Linked DNA regions of Homo sapiens. The protein of the gene in region 2 interacts with the protein of the main gene of each other region in a pairwise test. Each region holds a gene or a part of one and is shown on either strand. Other genes may lie near its edges.

The links. The genes of interacting proteins can lie anywhere in the genome.
Region 1: the proteins of GOLGA2 (region 2) and PTPN21 interact in binary tests that used the Homo sapiens proteins (3 or more experiments, as listed by UniProt).

What each region holds. Positions count from the first base shown.
Region 1 is NC_000014.9:88,465,278-88,468,007, reverse strand, and holds the end of PTPN21 (tyrosine-protein phosphatase non-receptor type 21), read left to right. Parts: 3' UTR 1-2,230; downstream 2,231-2,730.
Region 2 is NC_000009.12:128,259,008-128,262,507, forward strand, and holds part of GOLGA2 (golgin subfamily A member 2), read right to left. Parts: intron 2,751-3,500; coding exon 2,661-2,750; intron 2,555-2,660; coding exon 2,447-2,554; intron 2,253-2,446; coding exon 2,165-2,252; intron 1,796-2,164; coding exon 1,458-1,795; intron 1,183-1,457; coding exon 1,069-1,182; intron 385-1,068; coding exon 160-384; intron 76-159; coding exon 1-75. UniProt on the Homo sapiens protein: Peripheral membrane component of the cis-Golgi stack that acts as a membrane skeleton that maintains the structure of the Golgi apparatus, and as a vesicle thether that facilitates vesicle fusion to the Golgi membrane.

The sequences.
Region 1 (2,730 bases), on a different chromosome or scaffold from region 2:
GTCTGAATGGCGGCACGCTGAAGGAAACGTGCGAAGCACAGGCTGAAGAGGGGTTTCTAACCTGGGAAAGGTGCTCAAGGAGGACTTGGTTTCAAGGGCCTTGCCCTGCCCCGGTCTGTCCGGTTTGCAGTACTTGCACACATTTTGGAGATTGTATTTTCTAGACAATTCTCTATTTTACTGAAGCTATGCTGGGCAATTCTGGCAATCATTAAAGTGCATAGATTTCTATCTTAAACTAATTTTTGATAATGGAGTTTTTATTTTATGACAAATATTTAGGGATTTTTCTAGTGAGAAACAACTTTGTGTAAGGATGATCCACAGATATGAGTTGCTCCTATATAACTTTGTATTTAAAAATCATGTTATTATCTTTTGTTATTTTTTAAAAACCTTGGGTACTTAATAATGGTTTAGTTGCCAAACTGAAAACTATACTGAGAATCTGTGTTATTTTGAAACATCAAAAGGATTTTTCTATCCAGAACATTTTTTATCCTAAAAATTCTATATAGTTGTACCTTCTGTTTTTCAAATGAGAGCTCAATTCATTTAGATACTGAAATGAGTCAGTTAATGTAAAGTTGAGGATGAAGGCACATTATTTAAAATGTAAGAGAATAAGCATTATTTTTTCAGTATTATTCATAGATCTAAATGAATTTGATTTTATTGGTTGAAAATGAAGTGAAAAACAATTGCCTAGGGTGGTTTTAAGCACTTTTTTGTTAAAAACAAATCTGAGTTTTAATATATGTGTTGCTTTGTAGATGACACAATAACAATGGGCGCTGAGAAGCGTTTTGGGAGAGATTAAGGACTAAGAGTATGTAAGATGACTAGGACAAGAGTAGGTGGAGTGTGATGGTAAATGCAGGATGCCTTCGTCTTTACAAAAATGCAGTATTATCTATACTCAGACTGAGGTGCTGGGATGGCGAGCAGGGGACCCCACAGCACTGTCCCCAGGGAATTCAAGTCCTGTGACCGCCAGTGACTTACTCCGTTTCCTTGGGGCTTTTCCCACCTCAACCTGTATTGTTTCTTTTTCATAAATAAATTCAGCATTATAGTATCATTAAAAGAAGCCTTAAAGAGGCGTATTTTTCCTTTTGGTTGAAGGAAGGGAATAGTTAATAATAGTTTTCACCTCTTCTCCCAAAAAGTACAGTCCAAATTTGTGCACAGAGATTGCTGTGGTATTCAAGAGGTACTTGCATTTTAGCTCCTTAATAATTCCCTGGCCAGTGTTAGCTGTTTAGTGCCCCCTCACCCATCCCATTTAGGCACATCCCAATAGACAGAGCCAGGCTGAGTTACAGGGGGAGAGTGTCATCTCTGGCCCCGATTAAGATGGCCTTGTCACAGTGACCGCTGAGTAGGCATGGATGAGTGGGATATTTAGCTGAGGAACCCTTTCCCTTTTCCTTCTTTTTGGGGTCTCTTCTTACAGTGAACTTCCAAAATGTCAAATCTAGGGCTGTTTCCCAAATTACACTATTCTAGGCATCATTTTGATTCCCATGTCACTCCTTAACTCACTTCCTTGAGCACTACATGTATGTTGTCAGCCACGAGACAGGACTTCCTAAATAGTGTGTGCACCAGCCTAACTCTGCCTTACCCAGAAACCAACCACCTAAGAGGAAAACTCAGAAGATATTAATGAAAACTAATTGAAAGTACGCACACTTCTCATGTAGGAACAAAATTAAAATTTTACATTTTTATTTTACAAAATTAAAAAATTACATTTTGTAGGAACAAAATGTAAATTTTGTAAATACAAAATTCTTTTTAAAGTCCTGTTTAAAGAACAGTAGAACTAAGTGAAAATATTCAGAACGAGCTCCTTAGAAGAAAGGAATAAGAACTTTTTACTGGAACTATTTTCCATCTCTAGAAAAAGTGCTTCTTCCCCTCCCCCTCCCTCTCCATGGTACGTTTTTGTGAAAATGCTTTTCTGTCAGGTTTAAACAAACAGTTTGACATAGCTCGTTGACAAGAACATATTGTAAAACAAATCTAATTAAAGAGTAATATGTGGTCTATTTGTGTTCCTGTTGTAATAATTTGATAAGTAAACTTCTGAGGGCAAAATTACTGTTTAATATTACTCTTAAAATGTTGCATGTTTGGCGTCATTCCTAAGAGCCATGTAATTTTAAACTTTTAATTGCAGTTAGTGAATATGAAAGGATTTCTGAATAAAAATCTATCCACATTACTGAGCTTTGAAATAGTATCATTTTCAAGAGCAAACTAGAACATTAAGGGTTCATAGGTTTACTGCCTCTGAAATGAGTATATTAATGTCTGCCAAACTTACACAATGCTTCATGTATCTTAGTGTCTTTTAATAAGAATTATCAAAATGTGCACTTCCACAAAACGTAGAGTTATAAACCACTGTTTTCCACTGATCAATTTTGGTATCTCTGGTATCAGTTTTCCTGATTAGTGGGGTCTTTTGATGAAATAGTTTAGCTTAGTTGGTAGTTTTGAGCACAGAAAGTACTCATTTTATTTTTTATTTTTGAGACGGAGTCTTGCTCTATTGCCCAGGCTACAGTGCAGTGGCATGATCTCGGCTCACTGCAACCTCTGCCTCCTGGGTTCGAGTGATTCTCCTGCCTCAGCCTCCTGAGTAGCTGGGATTACAGGCATGCACCACTATGCCCGGCTAATTTTTGTATTTTTAGTGGAGACGGGGTTTCACCATGTTGG
Region 2 (3,500 bases):
TTCCCCAGGGTGAGCCATGAGGCTCAACTGGGCCCGTAGCTGCTGATTCTGCTGGGTGGCAGCTTCCAGGCGCTCCTAAGGGGCCAGAAAAGAGAGTGAGAAGGCATGGAGGTTGCCAGGTTGTCCCCCTCGGGGCCCTGCCCTCACCAACTCCCTCACCTGGGTTTCCTGCAACTCTTGGCGGGCCATCTCGGCCACCGCTTTGCCCTGAGCTTCCTGCTGCTGCAGCTGGTCCACGAGCTGGGTCTGCAGCAGTAGCTGATTATGCAGCACCTCCTTCTCAGAGGTCAGCTGCTGATAGGCGGCCACATACTGCTGCAGGTGTCCCAGGTACTGGTCTCGCTGCTGCTGCAGACTTTGAGCCTCTTGGCTCTTCAGCTCCACCTGTAGGAAGACCCTGGGCGTGAGGGCAGGTGGTGGCCTGCTTCCAGATTCAGGGCCCATAAATAGGGTAGCGAGGGCTCTGTCACCTGCCCAGACCTCTGGCCCCTTGCTCCAGGCCTAAGTGACTGCCTCCCTTGTCTAGAGCCTCGTGCCTCCTTCCCCAGCCTCAAATTTCACATCCTTCTTCCCACCATTTAAACCGTAGGCCACAGACTGGTGGAAACGCAGAGGGAGCCAACCACCATCTGCTAAGTGTGCTACATGCCTAATGCTTTCCACGTATTATCTCATTGAATCCTCAGCACCTCTGCAAGGAAGATGCTAACTTCCTTTTTAAGTTAAAGAAACTGGGGCTTAGAGATGCAAAGTAGTTGAATGATGACCAGTGGAGCAAAGGCCAGAATCCAGTTTGAATCTAAGGAGCCTCTTATGCCGCTGTCTCTTCCCCTGTGATTGGGAGAAATCCATGCCTCTAGCTGGGACGATGATGTCCAGACCTGAGAGGAGCCCAAAGCTATCCACCTCTAAAAGTCAGAGGGCAGGGAGCAAGAAACAGTCACAGGACTGCCCTGGAGGGTGCTGGGGTCACCTGTGCCCCAGGCTGGAGCTGCCTCTGGCCTCACACCACCCCTCCCCAGAGGCTGGTGCCCGCCTCCCAGCCCTTCTTGGATGGGGCGGGGTTACCGTTTCCTTCAGCTCGCTCAGCTTCTCCTGCAGCTCGCCCAGCTTCTTTCCCAGCTCCCTCTTGACGTGCTGCTCCGACTGCAGTGCGCTGGTGATCTCCATGTTCTCATTAGTCTGGACAGAGAGAAGCAATCAGCGGCCACCCACTGCAGCTGGAGACCCCAGAACTTGCTGCCTTGGTGTCTGCCTCCCATGGCACCGGGAAGGGTGGAGGCAGGTTAGAAAAATCATCCCCTCTCCCCCACAGCCATCGGAGCAGGGCTCTGGCTCACAGATGCCTCCAGAAGTACCATTTCAAGTGAGGGCTACACTGCCCCACTTTACAGGTGGGAAAACAAAGGTCTGGAGGGCTAGGGAGGAGGGCGGGCTCTCCAGGTGGGGCAGCGCACCAGCTTTACAAATCCGCTCTGCAGCTCAGCCAGCTGCTCCTTGAGCTCCCGGTTCTGGGAGAGTGCGCGGCTGATGGTAGTGCGGTCGTTCTGCATGGTCTCCAGGATTTGCCTGCGCGCCTCCGCCTGCTCCCCCCAGAGCTCGGCCGCCCGCTCCAGCTCCAGCAGCCTCTCCTCCTGCTCCCGGTTCAGGCGACTCAAGCCCTCATTGTCTTGCACCTGGGCTTGAAGCTGTCCTGCCAGACCCTCCAGCTCCTTCCGCAGGTGCTCAGCCTCCGCTTGTAGCTGCTGCTCCACCTCGGAGGGCCCTGCTGGGGGCTCTGGGGGCGGGGGTTCAGCTGAGAAAGGACGCAGACAATAAAAGCCTCTGGATTCTCAAAAAAACCCTCCTCTTGGTCCATACCTCCTCTCAAGCTCCCCAAACTTGGCCTCCCTGCTGATGATTCCTCGCACCCGGATGTTAGCCAATCTTCCAAACCACTTTCCGATAGCGACAACTGTGGGTGGCTGACAACGGGCACTCCTTCGTCTTTGCTGATGGGGCACTGAGGCTCATGGAGATGACGAGACTTGCCATCTCCTGGCACAGACCTCTTTCCCTCTGCCTCAAAGCCATTCCATCCACCCAACTCCCTGGGGCATTCTAAACCACCCCCACAACCCTCTGACACCATTCCTGCTCCCAGGTCACCCCAGCCCCAGCTTACCCATCTGGTTCCTCAGTTCAGCCAAGCTCGTCTCCAGCTCCTGTACCCGACTCATGCTACATTCCTTCTCCTCTCTCAATGTGTGCACCTGCCCAAAGCACAGCAAGAAAGGGCCCTGGAGAGGGGCTGGTGGCTGGACAGGCTACCATCTCCCTCTGCCCCCACCGCCACAAAGCCCAGACCCATGACCACCTCTGGCTGTGCTCCTCCCATTTCGCAGATGCCCAGAAAGATCAAGTGACCTATCTAAGGTTGAGGGGGAGCTGAAGGGTCAGGTCTCACCTGCTCTGACATCTGCTGCATCCTCTGCCGCCACATGGCGCTCTCTCCTTTGAGATTCTCCGCATATTTATCTCTCTCCATTTGTAGTTGTCTAACCGACTCCATTACCTGCAAGAATGGCCACAGAAATGAGGAAGGACTGTCACTGGTTGTCACCTACTCCTGGCCACCTGGGGTCATCTTCCTTCTACATCCCTCCCCTGCAAAGCCTCACCTGCCCCAGGTGTGCTTCCAGCTGTGCCCGCTCCTCCATGGCCTGCTGTAACTGCTGGTTAGCATCAGGGGCTTCACACCGGCTTGAAAACTGGATGGTGAAGAGCGAGAAGTTTAGATCTGGGGAGCCCAGGCCGTTCCAAATAGTGCCCCTTAAAAGGGCTAGGGCTAGGCTCAATGTGCAACTCAGTCAATACAACTCTGCTGTCAAGTTTCTTTGCTTTAGAAATAAAAAATAATTTTAAAAAGATCTCAGGCCAGGCATGGTGGCTGATGCCTGTAATCTCAACACTTTGGGAGGCTGAGGTGGGTGGATTGCTTGAGCTCAGGAGTTCAAGACCAACCTCGGCAACATGGCAAAGCCCCGTATCTACAAATACAAAAATTAGCCAGGCATGGTAGTGTGCGCCTGTAGTCCCAACTACTTGAGAAGCTGAGGCAGGAGGATGGCTTGAGCCTGGGAAGTAGAGGTTGCAGTAAGTATCACTCCAGCCTGGGTGATAGAGCGAGACCCCGTCTAAAAAAAAAAAAAAAAAGATCTCTACTCTCTATTATTAGTGAAAGTGTTGGCTTGAACCTCAGAAGGAAATAAACAGACTCATGAGCTAGCCATATAAATGTAATCTCTAAAATAATGGTTTTCACCCATGATGCTTTAAAACAAAACAAAACAAAACAAAACAAAAATTGTCTTAAGCCCTAACCCTAAGATTCTGATTCCCCAGGTCCCCAATTTGTAGATTTTTAGCACTCTCTAGAGGATTTTATGCCAGGACCGGAACAAGGACCCAAATTTTCCAGCTCTTGGCTGGAGTCTCCCCATGCCCTGCATGATCCCTAG